Linked DNA regions of Homo sapiens: region 2 is linked to region 1. Evidence: fine-mapped expression QTL. A gene starts in region 1. The other region holds a variant in brackets. All regions are shown on one strand. Distances are from middle to middle.

Evidence for each region. PIP is the estimated chance that this variant, and not a neighbour inherited with it, causes the effect.
Region 2: its variant is fine-mapped to the expression of ABHD2 in whole blood (TOPMed, PIP above 0.99).

What each region holds. Positions count from the first base shown.
Region 1 is chr15:89,080,430-89,095,685 of GRCh38, forward strand. It overlaps ABHD2 (abhydrolase domain containing 2, acylglycerol lipase), which reads left to right and starts at 8,027. Exons shown (of 11, transcript NM_152924.5): 1 at 8,027-8,134. It overlaps LOC124903573, which reads right to left. Exons shown (of 7, transcript XM_047433432.1): 3 at 11,747-11,812; 4 at 10,706-10,854; 5 at 8,406-8,503; 6 at 7,639-8,257; 7 at 7,132-7,512. The coding sequence ends at 7,298. CARMAL (coronary artery disease region linked MFGE8 regulatory lncRNA) reads left to right here. Exons shown (of 4, transcript NR_183882.1): 4 at 2,062-3,800. RefSeq lists enhancers at 6,790-7,435, 8,046-8,225, 8,167-8,686.
Region 2 is chr15:89,124,119-89,139,374 of GRCh38, forward strand. The region is part of intron 3 of ABHD2 (abhydrolase domain containing 2, acylglycerol lipase); the gene reads left to right. It also overlaps the pseudogene HMGB1P8. Among named protein-coding and RNA genes, the nearest start is that of ABHD2, 43 kb to the left of the region's middle. The variant T/TA (reference allele first, on the strand shown) is at 9,149.

The DNA.
Region 1 (15,256 bases):
TAGAAGTGTTCTGGAGAGAACCAGGGAAAGCATCAGCTAAGAAGAGCCCCCTTGGTGTTAGAATAAGTCTCAAAGACTGACCTGAAAGATTACCCTTGCAAAGGGGCCCAAATTTAATGTACAAGACAGGAGCAATTCATGCCTCCAGGGCATTATCAAACACGAAAGAACAATCAGCCAGCAGTTGGTGGAGGCTAACGGCTGTATGTGATACCATAGCAGGCTGACAGCTTAACAAAGAGATAAGGTAAAGAGAAAAGGAGACTTTTTTTTTTTTTTTTTTAAGATGGAGTCTCACTCTGTCGCCCAGGCTGGAGTGCAGTGGCCCAATCTCAACTCATTGCAGCCTCTCACTCCCAGGTTCAAGTGATTCTCCTGCCTCAGCCTCCCAAATAGTTGAGATTACAGGCGTGAGCCACCACACCTGGCCCAAATTTTACTCTTCTAGGCACCTCATGTAAGTGGAATCATACAGTATTTGTCCTCTTGTGATTGGCTAATTTCACTTTACATAATGTCTTCAAGTATCATCCATATTGCAGCATGTGTCAGAATTGTCAGAATTTCATTCCTTTTTTTTTTTTTCTTGAGACAGGGTCTCACTCTGTCTCCCTGGCTGGAGTACAGTGGCACAATCACAGTTCACTGCAACCTCAACCTCCTGGGCTCAAATGATCCTCCTACCTCAGCCTCCCAAGTAGATGGGACTACAGGAGCACGCCACCATGCCCAGCTAATTTTTTTTTTTTTTTTTTTTTTTTTTACTTTTTTGTAGAGACAGGATCTCACTGTATTGCCCAGGCTGGTCTTGAACTCTTGGGCTCAAGCAATCCTCTTGCCTCTGCCTCCCAAAATGCTGGGATTACAAGCATGAGCCACTGCACCGGCCAATTTCATCCCTGTGAAAGCTGAATAGTATTCCATTACTTGTACTTACCAATTTTATTTATCCCTTCATCCATCAATGGACATTTGGGTTGTTTCCCCCTTTTGGCCATTATGAATAATGCTGCTATGAACCCTGGCATACAAATCAAATGTAACTTAAATGCCACGTCTGCATTGTGGGTGATACAAGAGATGATTATAGAATAGCACATGGAAGAACATTTAAAAACATAAATTTAAAATGTCATATTTAAAAATGTAATAGTTGGCCGGGTGCAGTGGCTCAAGCCTATAGTCCCAGCACTCTGGGAGGCCGAGGCAGGGGAATCACTTGAGGTCAGGAATTCAAGACCAGCCTGGCCACTAAAAACACACACACAAAAATTAGACAGACGTGGTGGCGCACGCGTGTAATCCCAGCTACTCGGGAGGCTGAGGTGGGAGGATCCCTTGAACCCAGGAGATGGAGGTTGCAGTGAGCCAAGGTCGTGCCACTGTACTCCAGCCTGGGCAACAGAGCAAGACTCTGTCTCAAAAAATTAATAAATAAAAATAATAAAATGTAATCCTTATGAAATGATTTTAATGTAATTAGAATAACTATAATCACACTTTAAGCCTGCAATATCACATATATTATTGCTTCGGCCCACAAGGTTTCTCAACCTCAGCACTATTGACATTTGGGATAATTCTTTGTTGTGGGGCTGTCCTGGGCACTGGAGGGTGGTTAGCAGCATCTCTAGCCCCTACCCACTAGAGGTCAACAGCACCCCTGCAGTTGTGACAACCACAGACATTGTCAAGTGTCCCCTGAGGGATGAAACTGCCCCCAGTTGAGAACCACTGGTTTAGGATGGGGCTGAATAAGGTATTTAATTTTAAAAGTTGAGTCAATTTAATAACATTATTAAGTAAATAATAAAGCAGAGAGTACAGAGATAGGGTCAAAATTATCAATGTGGTTTGCAGATGCCTGGAGTTTGGGATGTTTGCTCTGCAACTATGCGAGGATATCCAAATACCCAAGGGGCTGAGACGAAGCCATTAACTAAGATGAAGGCATTATCTGGCCTCCACCACCAGCCCCATCCATTTTTTTCATCTTCTCGCCTACTGGGTCCCTATTTGACTCTGCTATGGACAAACTATCTTGTGTTCATCCACTCACAGGCCTACCTGGAATGCCATGCTCCCTCACCGCCAATGCTGCCCTACCAAATTCAGCCCATAGACCTTCAAAAACCAATTCAAATCTCCAAGAATCCAAGTCAGAAGAAATTGCTGCCTCCTCTGAATAATTATTGCTGACACTGATTGCACTCTGTGCTTATTGCTCAGTCCTTTGAGTTATCTCGTCAATATTTCCCATTTGTCCTATATCCATCCCCACCTAGGAATGAATGGGACTTCATGATTCTGTCTTTCTAGTATTAGATGTCTTGCTCAGTAAAAAATGTTTACTGTCTTGTAAATTAATTTAAATATATGGTAAAATAATATAGGGGTCTCTGGAAAGATGGAAATTGTTTGTTATTGTTTTTGAGACGGAGTCTCACTCTGTTGCCCAGGCTGCAGTGCAATGGTGTAATCTCAGTGCAATCTTGGCTCACTGCAACCTCCGCCTACCAGGTTCAAGCGATTCTCCTGCCTCAACCTCCCAGGTAGCTGGAATTACAGGCGCCTGCCACCACGCTGGGCTAATTTTTGTATTTTAAGTAGAGACGGAGTTTCACCATGTTGGCCAGGCTGGTCTCGAGCTCCTGACCTCAAGTGATCCACCCGCCTGGGCCTCCCAAACTGCTGGGATTACAGGTGTGAGCCACTGTGCCCGGCCTGTTTTTGTTTTTTTGTGGGTTTTTTGTAGTTGTTGTTATTTTTTTACACTGCATCTCGCCTTCTCCGGAAATAGTTTTAAAATAGCTCAATAACATAAAATTATGTAGGAAAGGGTGTATGATGAGCTTATTTAATGCACAAGTTTTATCGACTGTTTTGCAATTAATAGTATGAAAAACTCAATTTTTATTTCTGTAATTAAGAATGACATCAGGAAGAGGAATGCATGGTGACTAAGAAGAAGTCATCATTAGCCAGTCACCTGTCAGATATTCTGTATGTATCTGATTATAAGATTAGAACACTTTTTCATCTGTGTGTGTGCGCGCGTGCACGTGCGTGTATGTGTGTTTGTGTGTTTCATGAGCATTTTTAGTACTGGGTCCTATATATGTAAGTATAAATATTACCATAAAATTTATCAACCAAATTGGGACTATTTGAGAGTCACCTGGTGGGAGGGAGGGCACTATTAAAATTTTGCCAGGACAACATACATAAGCCAGGAGTGTTCATCTTATGATTTTACTATAGACAACTCACATATAGCTTAAGAAAGCAGCTCAAATCACAGACAAGATTATTTTTCATGATCGTTTTCACTGGCCACCAGAAAGCCTTTTCTAATAACAAAAGGACCACATTTTTGAATTTCATCATAGTTTGTCCTCATGGAACTATTGCATGCTGGGACTTAAAGCCTCTAAACAAACTTCATCTCCATTACCAATAAGAAGCCAGACAGTCGACCTGGTAACAGGACATTCTGAACCTCCTTCCTAGACTGCATGCAGACTGCACCGGCTGTGACAATAAAGCCACAATATTGGATCCCTCAGACTGCACCATGTCATGACTGCAGGAATACTTTATGAACCTCCAGGCTGCAGCTTTTACTATTATTCTCTTAGCCTCATCCTTTCCATTTCCCTCACAGTGATTACACTGATGAGGTCTAGTCTCAAAAACCTTAACTCGGTCCTCAAACCGTTTTTGGTAACCATATTCGAAAGGAAAAGTTTCTCGCACCAGGTGGTGAGATTTTGCTAGTGTAAAAAAAAAAAAAAAAAAAATCCTGCATGTGTTGGAGAGTGTGTATATAGGAACTGTCTGTACTTTCCACTTAATTTTGTTATAAACCTAAAACTATTTATTTATTTAGAGACAGAGTCTCCCTCTGTTGCCCAGGCTGGAGTGCAGTGGTACGATCTTGGTTCACTGCATCCGCCGCCTCCTAGGTTCAAGCGATTCTCCTGCCTCAGCCTCCCAAGTAGCTGGGATTACAGGCACACGTCACCACACCCAGCTAATTTTTGTATTTTTAGTAGAGACGGTGTTTCGCCAATTGACCAGACTGGTCTCAAACTCCTGGCTTCAAGTGATCCGCCCACCTCAGCCTCCCAAAGTGTTGGGATTACAGGCATGAGCCACGGCGCCTGGCCCTAAAACTGCTTTAAAAAATAAAGTCTATCTATATTTTCTAAAAATCCTGAATCCTGTGATCACTACTTCTGAGGGCTAGAACTTAGAAAATGAGTGAGGACCTTAGAGGAAGGTTCTGAAATGGGCTCCTATAATAGCTGTGGCAAACATTTATTAAACATTTTTAGGTATTTGCCAGGTACTGTTTGATGCACTTTGCATCTGTGAACTCATCTGCCACTCAAAGGACCCCATGAGACAAGCACTTCACTGTCCTCTGCGTTTTACAGAAGAAAGTAGGGCACAGAGATGTGCTGTACTCGCCCAAGGTCACAAGGCTAGGAAGGATGGAATCAGGATCCAATCCCCAGCAGTAGAGCTTCCAAATCCCCTTTCTCTGAACCATCCCCCGAGGACACAGAATAACAAAAATGACAAACTGAGTGAATTGCTGATTTTCCTTAAAAGAATAAATAGAACATATTATCTGCTCCAACCACTGCTCCCTGCTGTCTCCCAGAGTACCTTGACTTTCTCAGGTTAGTAAATCCTGCAGAGGCCCCAGTTGAGTTAGAAGCAGTTCTGCTTTAATGAAGTCCTGCAGCTTTGGCCATCCCAGAAGGTGACTGGGGCATACCCTCTCCCTTGTTCTTTTTTATTACAAGGTACTGTCACGGTTTTGAAAATTCACTTTACAGCCACATCCCAACACCTGCTTATCTCAGGCCAAGGCTCACCAAATCCTCAATCCCAACGGGCCACTAAACTTGAAGGCAAAAATAAGTCCATTTTGTCTCCTAAATGGCCTCCCTCAGAAATGATTTATAGAATGAAATAATATGATTAAACAGAATATGGCAAGACTGCAAGCAGAAGGGAGGAAACAGAAACCAGAGACAATTAAGGAAACAGTTCTGTGTGCTGGGAAATGATAATGGATCATTCTTTAAGCCTGCCAGAGCTGCAGAGAAGATGCCCGGATCCTTTTACTCTTCCTCCTCTTCCTGAGCTCAGTCTGTGCCTCTTTTTGAGCCTCTGTGACATAATTGTGTTTTAGAATTCCTGAACTGGAAAGATGTCCTTTTCTGGAACTGGTGGCTGAACCTATGTTCCTGAGATGGGAGAAAAAAGCCATTTACACAATGGCGAGCCCATCTGCAATCTACTCCTAACAGCTGCTTTTTGTGGCTCTGAATCAAGTTGGAGAAATCATCCTGGATCTCAGGAGCCACTTCATGCTTTTCAGGGCCTAACAAGACATCTCACTTTCCCTTAGCAAACACAGGCAGAAGCAAACCTGTATTGGGCTGGGCCTATTTCCGTAACATGCATGCAGCCATGTGTATGGCTACCAAGCAGCACTGTTTAAAGACAAGAACCAGAAAACTGTGGATCAGAACCAAATGTGTACATAGATATGTGTACACACCCCTCCAAAACTAGTGACAAATCTTTTTTGTTTTTTTTTTTCTGAGACAGAGTCTCACTCTGTCATCCAAGCTGGAATGCAGTGGTGCAATCTCACTGCAGCCTCTGCTTCCTGGGTTCAAACGATTATCCTGCCTCAGCCTCCTGAGTAGCTGGGATTACAGGTGTGTGCCACCATGCCCAGCTAATTTTGTATTTTTAGTAGAGATGGGGTTTCACCATGATGGCCAGGCTGGTCTGGAACTGCTGACCTCAGGTGATCCTCCTGCCTTGGCCTCCCAAAGTGCTGGGATTACAGGCTTGAGCCACTGTGCCCAGCCTATTTTTTAAATTATTATTAATTTTTAATTGACAAAATTTGTATATATTTATGATGTACAACATGCTTTACTTATTTATGTTTATCATGTTATTATGTTTATTTGTCAAACAAGGTCTCACTCTGTGGCCCAGGCTGGAGTGCAGTGGTGCGATCACAGCTCACTGCAGCCTCAACTTCCTGGGCTCAAACAACCCTCCTGCCTCAGCCTCCCCACTAGCTGGGACTACAGGCATGCACCACCACATCAGGCTAAATTTTAAATTTTTTGTAGAGACGGGGTCTCACTATGTTGCCCAGGTTGGTCTCAGACTCCTGGGCTCCGCCTCAGCTTCCCAAAATGTTGGATTACAGGCGTGAGCCACTGTACCGGTCCATGTTTTGATACATGTATACATTGTGGGATAGCTACACCAAGCTAGTTAACATATGCATTACCTTATATACTTATCTAGTGATAATCTAAAGCTCTTTTTTGGAAGTCCAAACTGTTTTAACTCAGAGTCAGGACGATGGGGTTCATCACTAAGAGACTTTGCTACTGAAGCCTGGGTTTTTCTTTTCCAAGATGAAAGAGAATACAGAGGAATATATAAACACTGAGATGAAACCTTTTTTTTTCAAGGTAACATGACAACTGAATGAAAAATAGAGCAATGGCAAAGGATTCTTTCTTCTCCTTCACTCTGATGTACCATGGCTGTGAGTTCTTTCAAAGACAGACACAAAGGGTCTGGGGCTACATTCAGGCCTGAGAAGCTATTTCTGTCCACACTCTGTGATGTCTACACCTTCAGAATGGGGAATGGGTTTCAGGGGTCTCTGACAGATAGAGCTCATGCAATGATTTCTGGTCCGGTGCTGATCAGCCTTCAAAGGATGTTATTTGGTTACGCTCCATAAAACTTGAGCCAGCCCACTGTTCCTTGTCACAACCTGAAATATGTTGGGAAAAATTTACATGGTAACAAATGCCACTTCCCTTCTCTGACTAAATCGCTCCTCTCATTTCATCCCCTGCTCCCTCTCTCCGAGCCCTATGGGGCCTTGGTAGGGTGGCCTTGTCTGCCCTACAGGGGTTGCATTTCAAGTCGCTCAAGTGTTCTATTCTTGGTACACGACATGCCATTGCAAAAGCAGTTTCAGGCTCATAGAATTTTAGAAATGGGCCTAGTTTCCCAGCCGGATGAGGTGAGTGGGTGATGGGGGAAGAATCAGCCTTGATTGAATGCCTGTTGAGTGCCAGCCACTGTTGGCATTTATCAGAGTTTATTTAATCTTCTCATCAACTACTATTGTTACCCTCAGTTGCCAAGTGAAGGGAGCATGCGGGAAGGTTAAGTGACTTGCCCAAGCCCACACAACCGGTAGGAGCCCCAATTCCAGGCCCTAGTTCCAAGGCTACATTCTTCCAGGCGGCCTCCAACTGGGTTGGTTAAGGGTTGAAAGGACAGTGGGACAATAACTGAGGCCCGTATTGCCCAGAGCGTCCCCATCCCCCGTCCGGAGCTGGAAGAGGCCATAGACCGCTGCCTCCACATCTTTTCCTCTCCTTCGGGTTCGGTGACTCACGACCCTTCTTCCTCTCTCCCGGGATATGACCTCAAATTTCACCCCTGCGAAATTTGAGTACACGTGAGTCAGTCAGTCGGCCTGGACCCATAAGAGCCCCAGCTGAGCTACCAGCAGCTGAGCTACCAGCCGACCTCATTCCTCTGAGCCCAGTCGACAGCTGACCTTACCCAGCCCTCTAAAGCAGTTTGCGGTCACAATTACCCGTCTCTTCACCCCGCCCCCATCGACATCAAACACGACCCACCTTCTAGCCCTCCTCCCCTTTCCCCGCCCACTCCGGGCTGGCCTTATCCAGTAGCGTCTGGGTCCCTGGACTAAAGCCGTCAAATGTAACCAATTGCTGAGGAGCTCTCCCCTAAGAATCCCGCCTCCACTCTGAGGAACAGCTTCGCTGATCAATGGATCCCCTCCTAGACGCAATGAGCGCGCGGGGCAAGTGGAGAAGCGGCTGAACTGCCCAATGAACAAGCGGTTTCCGTGGTTAGGGGCGTGGCAGAAGCGGTCGTCAGGGGCGTGGCGGCAGTTACTTGGGCGGGGCCGGTAGCGGCGGGAGCTGCACTGGCCAGGGGTTCCGGCTGTATATCCATGAGCGCCGCTGGCAGCCGGGGAGCTGCAGGAACCAGACTGGGGGCGAGCTGAGCACCTGTAGTCAATCACACGCAGGTAAAGCCACGGCCGAGCGAGCTCCGCGGAGCGGGGATCGCACCCCGGACCCGTCGAACCGAATCTCCGAGCCCCGAGGTCCCCGGCGTAGCTCGGCCCATCACGCCGCAGCCTGAGGGGATCCTGGGGGGCCTGTCATCTGGCGCCGTGGGGGTCCCAGGGGCTGGCTTGCCCAGTGGTGGGGACAGCCCAGATCGCGGCGGGGGATACGCCTTCCTGAGGCCCTTTGTCCCCTTCTGCCCGAGGAACCGAGGTTGGGGACAACCCCGACCGCGGCCTTTCCCCCATTGGTGCTCACTCCTGGGTCTTCAGGGGCCTGGGGAGGGGTCTGCCGGTTCAGGCTCGGCGAAGAAGGTCCGGGATCCGCACCTGGAAGGAGAGGGCCGAGGGGCCTGATTACAGCCCGAGATACCCGAGAGGCCTCTGTGTTTCGGGGCTCCAGGGGCTCACGCAGGACCAGTGGGTTTAAGTTCTAGAAAGGCAGCTTTTGACCCACTTGGAAGCACATTTACCGAGTTCGGCCCCGCGACCGGCACTGTTCTAGGCCCTTCGTGAGCTTTTCCCACAGCTAGAGCTGTCCAGCAGCGCAGGAGGCTGCCTGCCAGGCCGGGCAGCTAGCGCCTCGACCTTGGCGATGTCCAAGCAGTGGCCTGATGACAGCCACCTGTGTCGGATGCTTAGGACTCCCAAGGGAGGACTGCATGACCCATCTGTAAGGGCCTTCTCTACCCACAAATGCACTCTAAGTGGCCTTTGATGCCTAGCTTGAGAAGAGTACTTCTGGGGGTCCATTAGGTTCCAAGTGGCTGTTGAATTCACCCATAATGAATTTTGAGGTTTCAGCTCTCAAGAGTGGGTGTTAGCAAAGAGACTGGATTATACAAAAAGATAGAGGTTTATTTAGCCACTGTGAAACTCCTTGTATTTGAACTACCATGGACCGCTCTCTTAATCTTCCCAATCTCTCTTTTTTGGTTGCTGGACCTCCAGTTTGTCAGTTTCACCTGCATTCCAGTAACCAAATCCAAAGGCATGTTCCAAGAACAGGCTCCACAGAGGGACCTGGAGAGACTGCAGGTTTGGCAGAGTCAACAAGATCTGTGCCCAGAGCTTTTCGAAGGCCGTTTCCTTACAGCCACATTAAGCAGAGTCCAAAAGAGAAATCCTTCACTACCCTCTGTCATTTGCCGGAATAGAGAGAACATAATAATCTAAAGGTCAGGAGGCAGAGAAAGAATCTTAACACACCTTGCTGTGTGTTTTAGGATGAATTAATCTTTGAACATCTAGTCAGAAAGCAGTCCATATACAGCTGGTAGTCAGCACGGACTGTGACATTTTAGAGCTGAAGGCACCTTAGATAGAGCTCATCTCTATCTAAGTCTAATTAGGTGGACTCTCATTCAGTCTCCTCAATGCACAGGTGAGGAAACTGAGGCCTGGGGTGGTCACAGGGCTGGTTGGTCATCACAGGCCCATGACTAAGGGTTGATCTCTTGACTGTATTTAGATCTAGCCAGTGCATGACTTATTTCACTCCAAGCTTAGTTTGCCCATTCTCAGTGTTTTAAGTTCTAGGGGAGTCCAGAGAGGTTAGGAGGACAGATTTTGGTGCCTGAGTGCCTGGATTTGAATCCCAGCCCTGCCTCTTACTGGCTGTACAACCTTGGGCAAGCTACTTAACTTCTCTGTGCCTCTGTTTCCTCACCTCTAAAACAGAAATAATAATGATACTTATGTTAGAAGATTGTTTTGAGAAGTGCATGGAGTTACTACATCTGAAGCATTTAGAACAGTACCTGGCACAGGGTAAGCACAATAGATTTGCTAGATATGATATTCTGTTGCCTTTTTGTACATTTTTCTTCATATCCACCACCCAATACTCTATCAAGAGCTAATTTTTCCCCCAGTCCCCTTCCCCCCACCCCCAAATTCATTTAACATATTCCAGATTTCATTTTAACACAGACAGCTGCAAGGGGTTTCCAAGTCACGTTGCATTTTATACCTTACTTATTTTTGTGATTCAGGTAATTTAGTTTCTATGTTAGTTCCCCCTTGCAGTTACATTCTTCTTAGGCTCTGAACCCTTTAAAATTATCGTTAAAAGCAGGCAGTGAGGGGTGGGAATCCCTCGAAATGGTAAAGTCCTGGATGATACCCGTGTCCATGGTGTCCTTCCAAATATGTATTCCCTCTCTTCAGCCCTCCTCCCAAGCGATGAGTGTGATGCAGCTTGATTCTAAATGGATGAACATTTTTAGATTAAGATTTTATGAGCCACTGTATTAAGTGCTTTTCGGAAGTTCAGGGATCATGTGTCAACTGCATTTAAGGAAGTTACTTAGTCATTCGAATAGGGGGAGCACCAGCAGCGCCTGCCTGGCCTGGCAGAAGCAAAAGTGTGTGACTGATCCGTGCTGGCAATCTAGCTGGTTCACTGGTTTATCTGTGTTTTTCCTGTTCTTTTCCAAAGCTTGAAATAAACCAGATGGCAAGTACAAGGGAATGGTCTTTTTCCTCTCATTTTAGTCAGGGTCGTTCACTTTTTTCCCTTTTTACTCTCACCTTCATTTCCTTTATCGCCTGCGTGGGTCTGACAAATAGGCACTCTCAGTGTGCCAGCCAATTCCCTTTTGATGAAAAGATGCCTGCCACTTTCATTTTTTGCAGGAATCCAGTCACCTTTGATTTTCTCTTCTGTTTTTACTTGTTTTCTAGATTGAACCAAAGATTATCACTTCATTAAATGGCACCTTCTCATGCTTTATTTTTCTTGAGTTGATTCTGAATTTCGGTTTTTGTTTAAGCTGTTCTAGAGATCAGCCATTTTAGAATAATAGTTTTCATTTCTTTGCTTGTGTATTAATATGGGCCCCTTTCTCTCTTTCTCACTCTCTTTTCTCAGTATTTTGGTGGATGAGCTTCTCATTTGCTGTTACTCGTTGCTTTAAGCATTTACGCCTTTTCCTGGTAATCTCCGGCAGGACCCATAACCTCTGTAGTGGTTCTCACTGCCCTTGTTCAGAGCTCCTGCCCCGAGCAGGAAATAATTTCTTTGGTCTTATGGGAGACAGGGGTAGAGTCTGTCTTATTTTTTGCCTAAAATCTGGCTCTTTTAAAAGCCCCAGGAGAGAGACATTTCCAATATAATTGAATTTTGTGTGGCAGAATTTCTACCATGACCTACAGCTTACAGTATTCCCATTTTTATTGCATTGTGAGTTTTGAGTACTCCATGACCAGTTTCAGAGTATAGATGATGTGGGGCATGAGTTGCTTTAGCCTTTCTGTTTCATCTTGGGCTAAGCTATCCCCAGGAACAGAGCAATGAGAAGTTCAGGGTGCCTCTTAAATGTGTCTGGTGTCAGGATTTTATAGCAGCTTTTCATGGTTCAGCCTTTTTGGCCAGTGCATGAGTAGGACATTTTTAAGCCCTGTGCTGCTGTTTCTTTGTTGATACCATACAGATGCTACATTATCTCCTTTCAGGATTTTCATATCTGCAGATTGATTTTTGTTGTCTTGTCCAGGGCATCATATTTTTGGATTGAATGTTTTCTGTTTGTAAAATGGTTGGTGTGGACAGACGATAAGCTCCACCATTACCCCTGAAGCTTGTGGACTGGGGCCATTTGGGTGAGGGGCTTGTTACACACCGACTCATTGTCTGATCTTTCACAATAAATAGCAGACAGGTGAAGAGCTTTTTAGAGAAGTGGAACGTTGGTACCCTTGGATTTGCCTGGTTTCTGATTTTCTTTTGTTGTCTTTAAGTGGAGGTTCATTAAGTTCAACAAATTAAGCATCTGGTGTGTGCCAGGAACACAGTTGACAAGATTAACAAATTAGTTTGGTTTGTTGCTTAAAAACTATTTTGTTTTAAAATTGTTTTTAATAGAAATTTTAAAATTTTTTAATTCAAATTTTAGTTTTTAAAAATAGGCAATACATTCACATGATGAAAGAAAATTTTTTAAAGGCACAAAAGGTTAACTAGTAAATACATCTGTGTGTACCCCTGACCCCTGATCCTCAGAGGCAACCAGTATTAGCGATTTCTTCATCCTCCAGAAGTGGTCCCTGAACTTCCAAGGGATTTTATACATCTGTAAGCAAATTCGTTAAACATATTCTGTACACCACCCCTTTTTGCAGAAATGGTAGCACACTGCATACATGCTATTTGGAACCTTGCCTTTTTCACTTAATATTTCTTGGCAGTGTGAAAAGAGCTTCCACGTCATTTTTTATGAAGGCCGTCTATTTTAGATATCTGTTTTCTGTTTCTAAGGATGCTAAAAAACAGTCTTATTTAGGCAGCAGCTTTGCTGGAGATCTTAAAGATCTTGTGAATATTTGGAGGCAAATATTTTTCTTTTCTGTGAGAGCCCGGGGGAGGTGCAGGGGAGCTTCTAAAGGTCAGCTGAGAAGGGAGAGCTGGGGCACTGGAGAGTGAGGAACGCATTGGTCCTTGGGCCCTTCTTCGCCTTGCCGTCTGTGCAGAATGTGCTAGCATTTCCAGGGAAAGTTTGCCGTTTGCTCTCTGTTCTCCAGAGAAGCTTCCTGGCCTCCCCAAGTCACATTTCCAGCATCTTTTTTCATTCTTTTTTTTTTTTTTTTTTTTTTTTGAGACAGAGTCTCACTTTTGTCTCCCAGGCTGGAGTGCAGTGGCGCAATCTTGGCTCGCTGCAACCTCTGCTTCGCGGGTTCAAACGATTTTCCTGCCTCAGCCTCTCAAGTAGCTGGGATTACAGGCACACGCCACCACCCCCAGCTAATTTTGTATTTTTGGTAGAGACAGGGTTTCACTATGCTGGTCTCAAACTCCTGACCTCAGGTGATCCTCTTGCCTCAGCCTCCCAAAGTGCTGGGATTACAGACGTGAGCCACCGTGCCTGGCCTCATTTCCAGCATCTCTGTTGCATTTCATCCCGTCTCCTGCACCACAGCATCACTCCATTTGTCCTGCCTTTGGGCGTCCAAGAGGAAGCCTGCCCTTTGTCACAGCACTTTCTGTTTGGGTAGCTTTAAGTGTCTCACCCCTTCTTTTCTCTCACCCCAGGAAAAACCAGCTCTCACACCTGCTCCTCTGTAAAGCGTCTTCCCCAAGCCCACACGTAATTTTGTTGCTGTCCTTGAAAGTATTTCCCAAGATCTCCAAACCGCTTTAAACTTCCAAGGTCTGAGCCTGACCTGGCCTCGCTAACAAAGGGTTCCACTGATGCCGACTCTAAGAAGAAAGTTTTCAAGGTTCTTCGTATTTGAACTTTCTATGGCTAGGCTTATGTTTAAAATAACCACACTGATTTAAACATGGTCTTATAGTCTTCAGTGGCTCCCAGGTCTTGCCTCTCGGGTTTTTTTTCCTCTTTCCTTTGAATGTGCCTTAACCTTCGTCTTGCTTTTATTTACCTCTGAGTCTGGTTTAGAGCCACCTGGAAATTGAATGGAATCTTTAGTCTATTAGTCTAATCTAGAGTCCTTACCTTCTGGCCTTTGCTCATTGCAGAGCCCCCACATTATTAGTCAGTTGTACCACAGATACTGTGTTACATAAGGTGAGGAGAGGGAGGTGGTGTTATCAGTTCCACTTTTTCCAGGCTAGAGTGCAGTGGCCCGATCTCGGTGCACTGCAACCTCTGCTTCCCGGGTTCAAGCGATTTTCCTGCCTCAGCCTCTCATTTTATCTTGGATAAAAGAGAAGCTTTGAAAGATTGCCTCCCTATGTGTACAGTCACTGTAGGCATGTATTTGTGTACTGTTTACTTAGTCATGTCAATGAGGGCAATAAAAAACAAAAATCAGGAAGCCCAACATGGATTGCTACATTTTAATTCTTTCAAATAAGGAAATACAGCAGGGCTTGGTGTCACTACGCCTGTAGTGACAGCACTTTGGGAGGCCGAGGCGGGCGGATCACCTGAGGTCAGGAGTTTGAGATCTGCCTGATCAACATGGTGAAACCCCGTCTCTACTAAAAATACAAAAATTAGCTGAGCATGGTGGTGTGCGCCTGTAGTCCCAGCTACTTGGGAGACTGAGGCAGGAGAATCACTTGAACCCAGGAGGCAGAGGCTGCCGTGAGCCAAGATCGCACCACTGCACTCCAGCCTGGGCGGCAGAGCAAGACTCCGTCTCAAAACAGCAACAACAACAACAACAAAAACAAATAAGGAAATACAAAAGCCCTGTCATCTAAAAAGATATTTTAGCCTGGGTGCGGTGGCTCACACCTGTAATCCCAGTACTTTGAGAGGCCGAGGCAGGCGGATCACTTGAGACCAGGAGTTCGAGACCAGCCTGGCCAACATGATGAAACCCCATATCCACTAAAAATACAAAATATTAGCCGGGCATGGTGGTTCACACTCAGAATCCCAGCTACTCGGGAAGCTGAAGCAGGAGAATCACTTGAACCCGGGAGGCAGAGGTTCCGGTGAGCCAAGATTGAGCTACTGTACTCCAGCCTGGGTGACAGAGCAAGACTGTGTCTCAAAAAAAAAAAAAAAAAAAAAAGATATTTTAGCACCAAAAATGTTGGAAGATCAATATCTCAGATTAAAGAGCACCTTCTAACCAGGACATATTTAGCTTACTAAAAAGGTTGAGTTAATGGCCATTGAATTATGCTGTTTGGGAGGGCCTAAAGTCGAGGATTCTACTCAAGGAGAGGTTCCTCTTTTGCAGTTTCCTTAAACAATGCTCGTTACTCTTTTTCTGGGAAATCAGGCCATTGATTTAGTTTAGTTAACCTAACTGCAGCAGCATTTGGCGGGGCTTTGCGCCCAGTTTTTCAGGTGGTACAGACTACACAATGTTGATATGCAATTGTAGCACCTTATAGTGAGGTGAACTTATACTGGAAATCGTTCTTTGAATCCTGAAGCCTGGATTTGTCATGTTTGAAGTGCCACGTTTTAGTTCTTAAGGACTGAGGAGTGGGAGGGGGCTGAGGTGAGACCCCAGCAACCTGCTGGAATTAAGTAAGGCTCTTCAGTGGTATTTACACATAAGTTCTTTGGAAGCATGTACTTAAACTTACTAAATCCATGATTTGGTATGCCCGGTAATGGCCCAGATGGCTTCTGAGATACAGCATGACCTCTCTTCCGTGTC
Region 2 (15,256 bases), 44 kb after region 1:
GGAAGTATTAAATAATTAGAAATACACTACAGAAAAGCACTCATTCAAATCTCTCTGATAGTGCAATATATGGAGTTATTTTCTGGATCTAAAGAGCACGGGACTCCATATATGAAACGGCCACTTCTTCCATTTTCTTTTCTGCCTACTTGTTATAAAGCTGTTTCTTTGCAGAGGCAGTACCAATGCAGAGGCTGGGGTTAGGAGCTTTGAGATGGACAGTTGTTGTTTTCTCAATCTTAAAGCATCAGGCAAATGCAACTTCACACACTCTCTTCCAGTCAGATTGCCACCCTAGGCCCCTCCTAGGTAAAAAAAATTCTGGAACCAGCACAGCTTATTTATTTATAGCAAGTTAAAGCTGAAAAGAATTTCATTATCTTTGACTTAAATTTCTCTTAATTCCCTCTTGCTCACAGACATTCCACATCAGATTTAGATCCTTTCCTTCTTGGCTGAACACTAAAGCTTTGTCCTTTTCACAGGATAAATTCCTAATTGCCAAGAGCCTTAATTCCATCGACCTGATTTTATCTGTTTTAAGAGTTGTGCAGACTGGGCATGGGGGCTCATGCCTGTAATGCCAGCACTTTGGGAGGCTGAGGTGGGTGGATCACGAGGTCAAGAGATCAAGACCATCCTGGCTAACATGGTGAAACCCCGTTTCTACTAAAAATACAAAAATTAGGGCTGGGCGCGGTGGCTAACACCTGTAATCCCAGCACTTTGGGAGGCCAAGGCAGGCGGATCACCTGAGGTCAGGAGTTCGAGACCAGCCTGGCCAACATGGTGAAACCCCGTCTCTACTAAAAATACAAAAATTGGCCGGGCATGGTGGCAGGTGCCTGTAATCCCAGCTAATCGGGAGGCTGAGGCAGGAGAATTGCTTGAACCCAGGAGGTGGAGGTTGCAGTGAGCTGAGATCGTGCCATTGCACTCCAGCCTTGGGGACAAGAGTGAGACTTTGTCTCAAAAAAAAAAAAACCAGTTAGTTGGGCATGGTGGCACATGCCTGTAGTCCCAGCTACTGAGGAGGCTGAGGCAGAAGAATCACTTGAACCTGTGAGGCAGAGGTTGCAGTGAGCCGACATTGCGCCACTGCACTCCAGCCTGGCGACAGAGGGAGACTCCATGTCAAAAAAAAAAAAAGAGTTGTGCAAATATTTCTTTGGATATTTCTGGTAAACTATTAACAAGTGATTGGCAGAACTGTAGTGTTCTGATGTGCTTATTTTGTAGCCACCAGACCTTCAGAGCATATTCACCTGCAAACTTATATTGTTAGAAAATTCCTGAAAAATGGAAGACTCAAAATCATCTTGATTGAGGCTAAATATTAAGGGCTAGCCTCAATAAGTCAAACTTTTAGGCAATTTCATCTTAAAATTGCTCATGTTTCTGGTGAAATAGCCCAAACCAAAACTGTCAAAGTAAGAAAGTTAAACTGCTGACTCTGGGACACTCTTTTATTACTTGGCTGACCAAACATTCCAGTTTGCTCAGGACTGGGGCATGGGACTGTCAGTACTAATACCGGGGAATTCCAGGGCAAACAGGGATAAGTTGTTCACCCTCTCAACTACTCACTATCTTGGATGTTGCCTGCCTGCCCTGTCTCTGCTGTAGCAGGTCATTTATGCAAGGGGCCAGCCACATCAGGAAGAAAAGTGCCGCCATCTTTGAGGTCTCCTATATTGAATCAAGATCACCAAGTCTGAGTCTGCTGCAGAATTCATCCACCTTCTCTAACCTAGATACAGATTGTAGCTTCTTCTTAGAGACTTTATGCCTTCTTATAGGAATTGCCGAAGCCTGAAAGATCTAAAAAAAGGTTCGGAATCCAAAATAGTCAAGACTCCCGTGATTTAGTTCAGATGGAAAAAGGCTCATCCTTTATGTGCCGAGCATTCTTTAAAACAACCAATTCTGGTTTCCAAAAATGTATGACCCTTATACCGCCCTATTCATCATACCTGAGTTTACTCTTCAGGGCCCTACTATGTCTCCAAAAAAGGAGTATATGTCTTCCAAAAGGAAGTATATGCTACAACTGATTCCATCACGTGGTATCAAATTCAGTACATGTGGACGGTAAGTGGGCCTTGGCTCCACGTGTAAGGTCCTGTTTTGAGTCACCCCTCTGTGTCACCCCTTCCCAGACTCGATTTCAGAATCCACCTTGGTTCACCATTCATCCTTAACTTTTAGCTTACACCTCATTTGCTTTACAGGACTTACATGGAATCAGATCTACTTTTATACTCCTTCTCAATGTGTGGTTGACTGAAAATTGCTCCACTATCCGGGAGCAGGAAATGGACCTTGTTTTCTAGAAAGTCTCGAATTTCTAAGGATAGCCAACTTTTATCAGCCTCTCATGTTTTACTGACCCTGTGAATTCAGAGGTTGCCAATTTTGATCTCCACTGTTCTTTTTCTCTGCCTGCTTCTCAGCATGCCCTCCTTCACTATGATAGTACACTTTGTACTACAAAATAGTATATACTTTATGGTAAAATAAAATTAAGACAGTAAACTGACTTGGAAAATATATTCTGGAGGGTAAGTAAGAATTTTTCCTAAACTCTCAGTGCCAGTGTCATGCAGTGATGTGGAGAGTGAAGAGCTGACGGCTGTTTACGCTTTTCTTTGTCTGAAGCAACAGTGAGTGAAGTGACTGGCTTTAGAAGCCCAGTCTTCTTCAGCAGCATCAAGAATACTTCCCTGCAAATGGAGTCTGTTTGGGATCCTGAGCTTTAGGGTCAGAATTTATTAGATGGTGTAATGTTTACTTAAGGAAAGCATTTTCCTGAGTTTATAAGGAAATCTACCCCTCCATGAAATTCTAGAAAGCTATAACTAATACAGAAGGCTGTAGTCCTTGAAGACTTGATTTTATGCATGATTGGATGAGATGCCATTGCTGTTTGCTACCCCATGACTGTCAGTAGTCAGACTGAGAAGTGCCCTCTACCAAGTACCAAGGGCCGGGTACTCCTCAGAGGCCCTCCATCTGCCTGAGGTAGCTGCCTGCAGTGTAGTATCACGGTGAGCCATGGAAATGAGTCAGCCATTGTGGCAGCTTGTGAACCACCCTAACTCTACCTGCTGTCAGTTTCTAATCATAGAGTGAGGGCTCTGGGTCAGCGTGGGTGCATGGCATCAAACCAGATGGCTTAACTTCTGAGGTAGCCATTATAAGAGTCTGTAATCCAAAACATTTGGGAACCCTGCCTGGAGATCAGTGGTTGATCCAGAACCATCTGTAGCCTCCCAGGAAGGGAGAGATTTGTGAGAAACAGCAGGTTATATGTTTTTCTACCCTTCCACTGAGTACTAATGCCATTGCCATGACCAACCTGACTTTCCTGTGATATGTAGCACCAAATCCTCCTGCTGGCAAGACCCTGAACTGGTGTTTTCAGCCAGATCACAAAAGCTTGAACAGTAATTTCTTACTGATGTAAAGTGAGAAACTCCATAAATGCTTTTTAAAATGTTGACACCTGCCAAGCCACAGCAGTATGGACTTTTCCTTCCTTGGGATTTGAATAAAGGAAGATTCTTCTCAGTGAATATATATATATACATATATATATATACACATATATATATATATATATGTATATTTTAAAAATTAGTCAATTAGTAATATTTAGTAACCTGCTCTTCCAGTCTGTTCACCGTCTGTACACCATACTCAGCCCCTTCTATATCACACACAATACTTTTTCTCACATTTCCACCTTCTCTGTCTGTCAGAATCCTCAGGCCTTCTCAAATCGTAGCTCTTCTAGTAGCTCCTGACTTTTACCTGTCTCTGTCTCATTGGCTCTTACCTAAGGACAGGGATGGAAACAATAACTTTCCACATATGTATCTCTCGTCACACCTCAAGTGTATTCTGAGAGGCTTAAGGACAGAGACTGTCTTAAAAATTCTCTGTCTTCCCTGTGGTTGCTGCTTCTTGTAGAGTCAGTACACACTAACTTCAGTAGAGTCTTTTGGTAGGAACATGTGATTGACAGAGTGAGTAATTCAGGTAAGTGATAAAGGAATTTAGAGAAAGAGGGGATATTCCTGTGGTGGCTTGACTGATGAGGTCTTCCATAATCCTGAAAGATTAGTTGGCTTTGGATAGATGGGACAATAGGAGAGAAGGCACAGATGTTGGTGTGAGCATGAACCAGTAAAATCAATTATTTAAACAAGCACTCATGGCAGAAAACTGGCTTTGCTGCCCAGGCCAACACTTTTCACCCATCCACCTTTGTCCTTTTGTCCTGTGGGCCTTCCAACCAGTCAGCAGGATAAGAAGGTGGTAGAGGCCTTGCTGCCATTGACACATATCCACGTTGTCAATGCTTTGCCGTCACCACAGCTACTCTATTCTTGTCTCCTAATTCCATGGATCTTCATTTGGCTAGACTTTGATTGTCTCTCTTGTAACTCCCAAAAATGATCTTGGTGCTGCTTGCATCATGTTTGGCCCTGCTACCCAGTCTGCCCTTTGCTCACTGTGCCCTTTGATTTTGTTTGCTAATGGGTTTTGGGCCCCATCACTGGTCTGGTCTCTATAGTTGCTTCGTGGCCAGCTCCTCACCAGGTCCCTATGCCACGATCTGGTGAGCTGAGAGCTGTTTGATTGTAGCAGAGAGCCCTATGGTCTGTGGGGGGGAGGAAGAGGAGATCAGATCACGAGGAGTCTCTAATTCCCAGAGAGGAAGAGTTTGGGCTTGATCCTGTGAGCACTGGTGGTAGGTGGTTGGAAAGGGAAGGATGGGACAAATTCCAGAGGTCTTCTAAGGTGGAATCAGTGGTATTGGTGGGTAATGGAATGGCCTTGGGCATCAGAGGAAAGGGCTGAATCACAGATTATGCTGAGGTTACTGAGCGGTTGAGAGAATAGAATCATTGACAGAAATAGGGAAGTCTAATGGGGAAGCTGCTTTCTCAAGGAAAGTTGTTTAGCTTGGGGCTTGTCCACAGGATGTGCACAGGGTTATGTGCAATTATGGCATTAGAACTTAGGTGGGAGCTCAAGACCAGATGTGTAGATTCCAGATCAGCTGCAGGTAGGGGAGGTTGTGGGGGTGGGCAGAGAGAGACACTAAAGACTGATGGCTGAGGCAGGCCATGGCTAGGGTGGAAGAGACAGAGACAGGCAGTAAGAAAGGTAGGGAGAGAACCAGCAGCCTCCAGTTCCATGGCAGCCAGAGAAGGAAAACATTGAAGAGGGTGTCAGAAACTCAGGAAGAATGAGGGCTGACCAAAGGCCATCTACCTTGGCCAGAAAGGATCAGGGATTTTTGAGAATGTGTTTTCAGGAGTGAGGTGAATAAACAGGTCAGCACAATAGCAACCAAAGAAGTGAGTCAGGAAACAAACACCAGAGAAGGAAGGAGAAAAAATGGAAACTGGAGGAGAAAGCCAAATTGATTGAAGGTTTTTCCCCTAAGATTGAGAGGGTAAATCCAGGGGCCCAAGTGAGAGGGTGAAGTTAGCGAGCTGTTGCCCCCCGGGAATCCAGAGTCCAGATCAGCAGTGAGACCCACCTGGGCTCAGATGCCAGCCCTGCCCCCTGCTGGCCAGTGGCTTCACCTTGCCGAGCTTCTATTTCCTCATTTGTAAGATGGGTATAATAGCACTTATTTCATAGGTTCAGTATGCTGATTAAAAAAAAAAAAAGAACAGCATGTAAGATGATTTATAGGATACTTGGCATGTGTAAGAGTTCAGTAAATATAGCTGCTATTATTGTAGCTATTTTTATTTTAATATTATCAGCTAGATCAGTTGTACAAATAGCAAAAGACATAATGTACACGAAGGTCACACAAGCACACCTGAATGTCAGTAGGACATCAGTGGGTAAGTGGGTAAAAGATGTGCCTAGATAAATTCCACATAAGGAAATACATGTAATAAGCACCTCATAATGTTAAGACTTGGTAACAATGAAGCCTTAAAACATGAAATATTATTTGATATTCAGAGGAAAATATGGCAATATTGTCAAAATTATATTAAGTTGGACATCGTATTAGTCGAAGTAAACTAGTTTATACTGTGGTAACTAATTACCTCTAAACCTGCACATCTTAAAGCCACAAATGTTTATTTCTCACTCATGCTACGTGTTTATTTCAATGGGCAGGAGGGCTCTGCTGATTGTCATCCCACCAGGACCCCAGCTGATGGAGGTGACATCTCAACACCTGCTTCCGTGGTCATCACCGAGCCAGGAAGAGCAATGTCACACCTCACACACTGGCTCTTACAGGCTGCTACCGGAAATGGCACTTGGTCATTTCCTTTCCCATTTCATTGGTTTGGGTGTCCAAGGGAGATAATACAGTCATGGGTTCTCAGTTTCTGTTTCTGGTTGGTCCGGTAAAGCCCCTTCCTCATCCCTGTTTTTTGCTTATCACTAGAGACAGAAACTACAAACCATGGCTTTAGGCTGCTAAAAGCCTACAAAAGAAACAGAACAATAACAACAAAATAAGGCAGGTTGGACAAGCTTGAGAGCTTGTCCAGCCCATAGCCCACAGACTGCATGTGGCCTGGGACAGCTTTGATTGCAGCCCAACACAAATTCATAAACTTTCTTAAAATATTATGAGATTTTTTGTGTGATTTTCTTTTTCTTTTAGTCCATCAGCTGTCATTAGTGTTAGTGTATTTTATGTGTGGCCCAAGACAATTCTTCCAAAGTGGCCCAGGGAAGCCAAAACATTAGACACCCCTGGTTTAAAGCAAGGCTCGTGCCCATGCCTAACTTGAGAAGCAGCACACCTGTGTCCAGAGAAGAGGAGAATAATCATGGCCACAGGCAGCAGCCTGTGTCACGTGGGCCTCCTTCCTTCTGTCCTTCACTCCATCTCTCCTTCAGTGCCTCTGCTTCACTGCAGGACGTCATCAGCTTTCACCTGGAAGAATGCAATAGCTTTCCCTCCATTCTCTACCCTTTCTAATTGATCTTGCAGGCCACCAAATTATCTTCCTAAAGCACAAATTCATCATGCCATGCCCCTGCTTTAAACCAAGTGGCTCCTCACTGTCTGTAGGGCGAGGTCCAGCATCAGCCCTCGCTCCTTCTTCCCTATATTCCTTGTGTTCTAGACACATCAGATCTCTCCACATTTTCTCATACTGCATGTTCTCTCTTGACTATGTCTTACATTTGCAATGCCTTCTACCTGGAATCCCTTCATACCTCCACACAGCCTCTTTATTTGAGAGAACATAATCACCTTCTTTCTGATGAATGCTTTCTGGACATTTATGGTTCTCTTCTCTGTTGTCTGATAGCATCTGGTGTGGCCTTGGGATCTAGGACCCAGCAGAGAGGTGAAGGGGCAGGATGGGAAGCCCTTCCAGAGGGGAACAGGCACAGGGACTCCTCAGTGGTGTGTCCAAGAAAAAGCAAAACTGGTTTCTGACTATTGAGAGACTAACAGGTCCCCTAGAGTCTGGAGACAAATTGATGATTGGCACATAGAAAACTAAGCTGATGAGGAAATGATAAAAGTGATAACTTGAGGGAAAATAAAAAATTTCACAAAAAAGAATACAACATATGACTTCTTTGTGGCTAATATTTCCATAATTATAATTTTATAAACACTGAAAATTAACCATAAGTGTTGCTGTAACAGTGTTGAAAAGAATGGGCGAGGGGAAAATGTAAGTCTTAGGAGAGACGTAAGAGAGCTAGCACCCTCCAGAGTAGGAAGTTCAATAGGTGCTATTGAAAACTGAAATTGAAGAACCAGCATAAGCAGGATAAGCATGGCATTAAGAAATAAAGGCAAGTGTGGGATGGTAGGGACGACTAAAGGAGTTAAGAATAGTCATCTCTCAGGGGCAGGAGTCAGGAGACAGATGAGGCATCCTGTTGGACTTTTTAAACAGGAGTTGAAAAACATGAAAAAAAAATTCAAGAAAGATGAAAACAAAATATGTAAAGATGTTTTGCTGGCATTGTTTATTATAGTAAAAACTGGGAATAGCAGCATCCAACAATGGAGGCAGCAGCAAGATAATGCAGGGGAAAGAAAGAGCTGTCGGGTCAGACACACACAGAGTTCAAATGCAGGGTCCGCTGTGCAGTAGGCTGTTGGACACTCAGTTTCTGTCTGTAAAGGGGGTCCTAATAATAAGAATCGCTGTAAGGGACAAATTGAATTATGTAACATGCCCATAGAAGGGGCTAAATAAATGTTTGCTCCCTCCCTTAACTATAGCTAATAAACAGGATAGAATTTTATGCAGACGTTCAGAACTTAGCATACTAATTATCTATAAAAATAGAGAATAAGTGAAAAAAGCAGAAGACAATTATATATCTCTATCTGAGCACCATTGTTGTAACTATGTAAATACTCTGCTTTCAGATAGATATAGATGAAAAGGAAACAAAAATGAGAATATTTTTGCAAGGCTTGTGAGGATATGGGTGATTTTTAAGCTTCTAATTTCTTATAGCTATTTCAAATTGATATGAAATTAAGAGGACTCTGAATATGCATTTCATCTTTCATAGTTTTGAAAGCCATTATCTTGTTCATTCCTAATAATAAGCAGTGACACCAGCACTGTCCTTTGCATTTGTCCTTTATATGTAAAGAGAGATGGACTTTGCTTTAGTAGGACTTTCTAGAACATGCTTATCTGCATGGTTTGGTGGCGCTCTCTCACTTTGTGGACAAGATGAAGGTCTGGTGCCTAAGCTGGGGTTTCTCAAGGATGGAGTTGTTGACCATCTGAGAAAATGTTTTCCTGTGCCCACATACCGTAGGGGAGGGCTGCCATTTCAACAGGGCTAACCCACAGCCATCAACAGTGGCTTCTATCAGCTTTTTGTAACTGTTCCTCTGACGGAAAGCTCCAGGGCAGCTGCATCATTTCCTTCCTCTTACATTTGTGCTCAAGGCTCACCCTGGTCAAGAAGCCTGGCTGCATTTCCCAGAGGTTCTTTTATCAGCCAGTAGAACCTATGACCTTGTACCCTCCGTGTTGCCCTTGCTGTCAGTCGGCTCTTGTTTATCCTTCCATCTTTTCTTTGTGAAATATCACTCAGAGATTTGTCCATAGGAGTGCTGAAAGAGCTTCCTCCATTTATGTCTTGACTGCTTCGTATTCCA[T/TA]AAAAAAATAGTTTGTTTAACCAGTCTCCTAGATAGAGGTTTCCTTTATTTGTAATCTTTTGCTTTCACAATGTTGCATTGAATGCTTCTGTATTTTCATCACGATGCGCACCTGTCAGTATAGGATAAACTCCTAGAGGTGGAACTACTGGGTCAAAGGGGATGTGCATGGAAAATTTTGCTAGCTGTTGTCCTCAAGCCTCTCCACACCAGCACTGTGAGCACATTTCCCCAAAACGTTGCCAACATCAGGAGTTCTACTTTTTGATATTTGCCAATCTGGTAGGTGAAAAATGTTTTCTCACTGTGGTTTTAATTAGTCTTTCTTTGATTAAAGAGACTGTGTATCTTTTCATATTTTAGAACTCTTTTTATTTCCTTTTCTGTTCACTGCCTGTTGGTGGCCTCTAACCATTTTTCTGATGGTCATTGGTCTTTTTCCTAATCATTTGAGGGAGCTCTTTATGTACTAGGGAAATTAGCCCTTTGTGATATGAATTGCAAATATTTGTTCTCAGTTTGTCATTTGTCTTTTGACTTTGCCCATAGTGGTATTTGCCATGCATAATTTTTTTTTTTTTTTTTTTTGAGACAGAGTCTCGCTCTGTCACCCAGGCTAGAGTGCAGTGGCGTGATCTCGGCTCACTGCAAGCTCCGCCTCCTGGGTTCACACCATTCTCCTGCCTCAGCCTCCTGAGTAGCTGGGACTACGGGTGCCTGCCACCACGACCGGCTAATTTTTTTTGTATTTTTAGTAGAGACGGGGTTTCACCATGTTAGCCAGGATGGCCTCGATCTCCTGACCTCGTGATCCTCCCGCCTCAGCCTCCCAGAGTGCTGGGATTACAGGCGTGAGCCACGGCGCCCGGCCGCATAATTTTTTTTAATGTTTGCATAATTAAATTTTTCAATTGTTTCTTTTGTGGCTTCTGGGATTTCTGGTTTCCTTAGAAAGGTCTTCTTCACTGCAAGATTATTTTTAAAAGCCTAGAATTTCTTCTAGCATATGAATGATTTCATTTTTATTTTGAAATGTTTCATCCTTCCAGAATTTATCCTGGTGTGAGGTGTGGCTCCAACATAATTTTTTTCAAGACGGCTACACTTTGTCCAACACTATTAAACAATCCATCTTTACCCCATTATTCAAATGCCACCTTTTTCACCAACTAAATTTCCTGGATGTATTTAGGCATATTTCCAGTCTTTTGTGTTCTGTTGATGGTCCTGAACATATACCATCAGCAGATTGCAGCTTTGTACTATGTTTTGCTGTGGGCAGTGGGGCGATGCTCATACCCCAGCACTGCTTGTTTTCATACTTTTCTTGGCTATTATAGCTGGTTCATTTTTCCAAATGAACTTTAGAATGCTTGTTTAATTCCACATATAAAAATCTTATTATTTTTATTGTGTATCTCTTAAGTTTATAGGTAATTTAGGGAAAATTGACATGTTTGTGATGCCAAGTTTTCCAGTGCAAGTTCATTTATTCAAGTCTTTGAGCCCGAAAGAGCATTATAAAGTTTTCTTATCTCCTTTTCTTGATTGTGAACTCCCTGGGAGCAAGAATGGGGTCAAGTTTTGAGTATGGCTTATTAGTAATGATCTATATAATTACTGACAAAAGAAACATAATTTTCATTAAATATTTGTAGAACCTACTTTTTCCTAACATCATTGCTTGCCATTTTATGAGTTGTTTTCTGCACATCAAAGAAAGGCAAGATGTAGTACAAATGCTGATGTCAAATGTCAGCATTTTAATCCTTAAAGTCATCTCTTGATTGGTGTGTTCTTTCTTTATTTATTTTTAATAAAAAATTGTATTTGCTTAGAAGCATTCAGAATGTCAACAAAATGGCTACAACTTTTTCTTTTTTTTTTTTTTTTTTGCAATTACAGAGTGGTATTCACTTAACAACAGTCATTTTATATAAGCTGCATCAGAGACAACTGAAGATGAAAAAACTACCATCCCCATATATAACTAATTTGTGCCATGCACTAACAAGAACCTGCTTTTAATTTCCATGCCAGTTTACAATCCCCATACTGTACTAGGCAAGGTTGGTGGCTATTGAAAATACCACCAGGACAGGGATATCTAAAGACACATTTGGTAGTGTGTTAACTATACAAAAAAAAAAAGACATTGTACAGTTTAAAAACAAATCTTACACAGCCTTACATTTCAGTTTTTTTCTTTAAAAGGAGTGAGTTATGTACAGGTTAAATGCTTTATAGACGAGAAAAAAAACTACACTAGAACCAACTTATTCATCATCATCTTCATCTTCCTCCTCCTCATTCTTATCCTCTTCATCTTCCTCATCTTCCTCCTCTTCCTTCTTTTTCTTGCTTTTTTCAGCCTTGACAACTCCCTTTTTTTGCTGCAGCAGGCTTTCCTTTAGCCCGATATGCAGCAATATCCTTTTCTTACTTTTCCTTCAGCTTCGCAGCCTTCTTTTTATAAGGCTGCCTGTCATCTGCAGCAATGTTATTCCACATCTCTCCCAGTTTCTTTGCAACATCATTAGTGGACAGGCCAGATGTTCTCCTTTGATATTTGGGCGATACTCAGAACAGAACAGAACAGGACAGAACAGAACAGGAAGAAGGCCGAAGGAGGCCTCTTGGGTGCACTGGGATCCTTTAACTTTTTTTTTTTTCTTTTGAGATGGAGTTTCCCTTTTGTTGCCCAGGCTGGAGTGCAATGGCGCAATCTCAGCTCACTGCAACCTCTGCCTCCCAGGTTCAAGCGATTCTTTTGCCTCAGCCTCCCGAGTAGCTGGGATTACAGACGCCCGCCACCATGCCTGGCAATTTTTTTTTTTTTTTCAGTAGAGACGGGCTTTCACTGTCTTGGCCAGGCTGGCCTCGAACTCCTGACCTTAGGTGATCTACCCGCCTCAGCCTCCCAAAGTGCTGAGATTACAGGCGTGAGCCACCACACCCAGCCTGAACGTCTTTTTTGTCTCCCCTTTAGGAAAGATACAGGTTTTCGTTTCTCTTTCGTATGGGCCCTGTCTGCCTTTGCCATATCTTCGAATTTTCCTTTCTGTTTAGTAGGCATGGTCTTCCACCTCTCTGAGCACTTCTTAGAAAACTCTGAGGAGTTGACTGAAGCATCTGGATGTTTGTTCTTATGTGCCTCCCTACAAGTTTGCACAAAAAATGCATATGATGGCATTTTCTCTCTTGGCTTCTTAGGGTCTCCTTTGCCCATGTTTAGTTATTTTTCCTCAGCAAGGCACAGAATTGCCCAGTGCCCATCTGGCTCTCACTTGCCCCAGTGCTATCTCTATGGAGCTCATTGTACTGCAATGGCTGTGATATCGGGAGCCAGGTGCAGCCTCCTCACTCTCTCCGCTCTATAACATTGCTCTCCAGCCAGCGCAGCTCCTAGTTGATTAGCGTGTTCTTAAAAGAGCATTCTGTGTAGGTAATCCAGGGGCTTCACATTTAGGTATTTGAGTTTTCCTCCACTAGGAATAGTGGCAAATATAATGTGATTTTCCAGCTCTAATCTTCCCTCCCCATAACGCTGGCACAGATTTTGAGGTAGCCTTGGCCTGGGAAGTAGCCAAAAGGCACTGTGTTGGACAAAGAGCAGACCATTGGCATCTATGTGCATGTCCTCAGGAGAGAGGTGACTAGGCAGATGGGGACAAGACACGGGTGCTCTGTGTTCTGAGCGTCAGCGTACATCCTGTTTGGTTAGCACAGAGTGAGTCTGGGAACTTTGCACTTAGCACCTTGGCAGCCCAGGTCTGGGAATAGTGGTGCCTTCTCCTAAAGTTAGGTCACTAATCTTTGACTGGCTGTTTGCAGGACCAGTTCTCTAACGGATCCAGGGTTCCAGTGGAACCCTGGAGACTGGAACTCTGGAGCTTCTTAATAAACTGCCTCCCTACTTAAAGCATGGTGTCAAAACCAGGTTGAAATGCAACGTGAGGAGAGAGGACTGTGCTTTGGTGTGCCTAGGGAGGATGTGACCAGTTCCGCGTGCTGTTTGTGAACAGGAAGATAGTGGGATCAGATGCATTTAACATGTGGATACAGTTCTGAGGGGTTTTAACTGGTTTTCTTTGAACTTTAGAAAAGCACATTTATTTTTCCTTGGAGCAAAAAAGTAGTTTCTTTTTAAGTGGTTTTATTGTAACTCATGGGGCTGTTCTCCTAACATTCATATTTTATAGTTTGCACGATATGCACAAAGGTCACAGATGTACCAGCCTGGCCCAGTGGCCTCCGTCCTGTATTTAGAAACCAGTTCGGGAACGGAAGAGGATTGCTCTTTTGTTTCCTCAGGCCACTTTTGGTCATTTCAGGCAGAAACAGTCTCTGCATTGGAATTTTCCTGTGCAGATCCTGCAATTCAGGAATAGAGCATTTAGCAACAACAGTGAAAATGTAATGTGTGACAGCTGTGGAGAAGAATTTGCCTCCAGTGAGGGGAAAATGCTGTGTTCAAAGTGGATTTCTGATGAGCCTATTAATGGGTGTTTGGGAAGCTGAATATGTTGCTGCCATTTTGAGATGAAAGGCCCAAGGTGTTTGTTCCTGAAGCTAATGAGGAAGCCCTTTCCCAGCCTCAGCCTTACCTCCCCAGTAGGACTGGTGAGATGTGCACACAGGGTCTACTCCACATCTGGCCCTCCTGAAAAGAAGGGCTTCCAGTGGGGGCTGTGTCCTAGTGGAGAAGGGTGAAGCCCAGTGGGATGGGCTCACGAAGGACCTGCTGTTGACCTGCTGGCTTCAGGTCCACCAGGCTAGGGGTAGATAGGCCAGAAAAGAAACCAGAGGTGTCTGTGGTAGGAGCAGCAAGGGCCCTGGCTTCCAGGCCTGTGGAGCAGGGAGGCTCTGGCAGTTCAGGATCTGGAAAAGAACTGACAAAATGTTCTCCTAAACTCTGGCCCTTGCCGGCTTCCTTACCTTTCCTGTGTGCACACACATGCATGCACATGCACATGTGCACACACAGGAAGGCCTGGAACTCAGTTTGCAGACTCGTGGAGCTGCCACAAAGCTTCACTCCCAGTGTTTCCCCCACCACTGATGCTTGTCCTCCTGGGTTTATTCTCACCCATGAAAGTAGGGTAAAAATGTATCCCCAAATCAAACACCTGTCACCTTTCTAGAAGCACTTCCATCCTCTCTTGCTCTCACTGTCATCGCTCTCCTGGATCTTTGGGGAGATATTCAGTATGATTTTGTTAACATTCTGGCCTTATCTTAGAGATAATTAAATGTGAATATTCAAATTAATTAGCCCCCAGATGTATCTTCTGCAGAAAAAAACTCCTCTAACAAGAAGTCAGTTACAGTTGTGAGAAACATGCAAAACGAAAGAAATGTTTTTTTTCAAAGACCTGTGAAGACCACTGTAGAGAAGCTCCAACAAATTCAGTTTTCAATTTGAAGAAACATTATTTAATATAGAACATTTTGACAGTTGATCAGACAGGAGAAAATAGGCACAAAGCTGTTATTTTAACTTCTGGTTGGGGGAGTTGATGAGTCTTGAGTGTGATAAAGTAAGGAACGCTTTGGACTGAATCAGAGACCTGTCCTCTAATCCTAGCTTTTTTTTTTTCTTTTTTTTTCCTCATTTTTAAAACGGGGAAGACACCATTGCTCAGAATTGTGAAGATTAAGCTAGAAGGCCGGGCAGGATGGCTCACTTCTATAATTCCAGCACTGTGGGAGGCTGAGGTGGGAGGATTGCTTGAGCCCGGGAGATCAAGACCAGCCCTGGCGACATAGCAAGACCCTGTCTCTACAAAAAAAAATTAACTGGGCATGGTGGCATGTGCCTGTGGTCCCAGCTACTCAGGCGGCTGAGATGGGAGGATTGCTTGAGCATGGGAGGTTAAAGCTGCAGTGAGCCGTAGTTGTACCACTGCACTCCAGCCTGGGTGACAGAGTAAGACCTTGTCTCTAAAAATAAGTAAATAAATAAACTAGAGACATGACTCACCCAGCTCCTGATGGAGAGATTTGGTGCTCAGAAATATCTCTCCTCTCTGAGATCTTGGTACTCCCCATGATGCACTAAGTGAAATTGGTACTTCTCAGCCTCATGATTGTCTCCCCATAGTATCA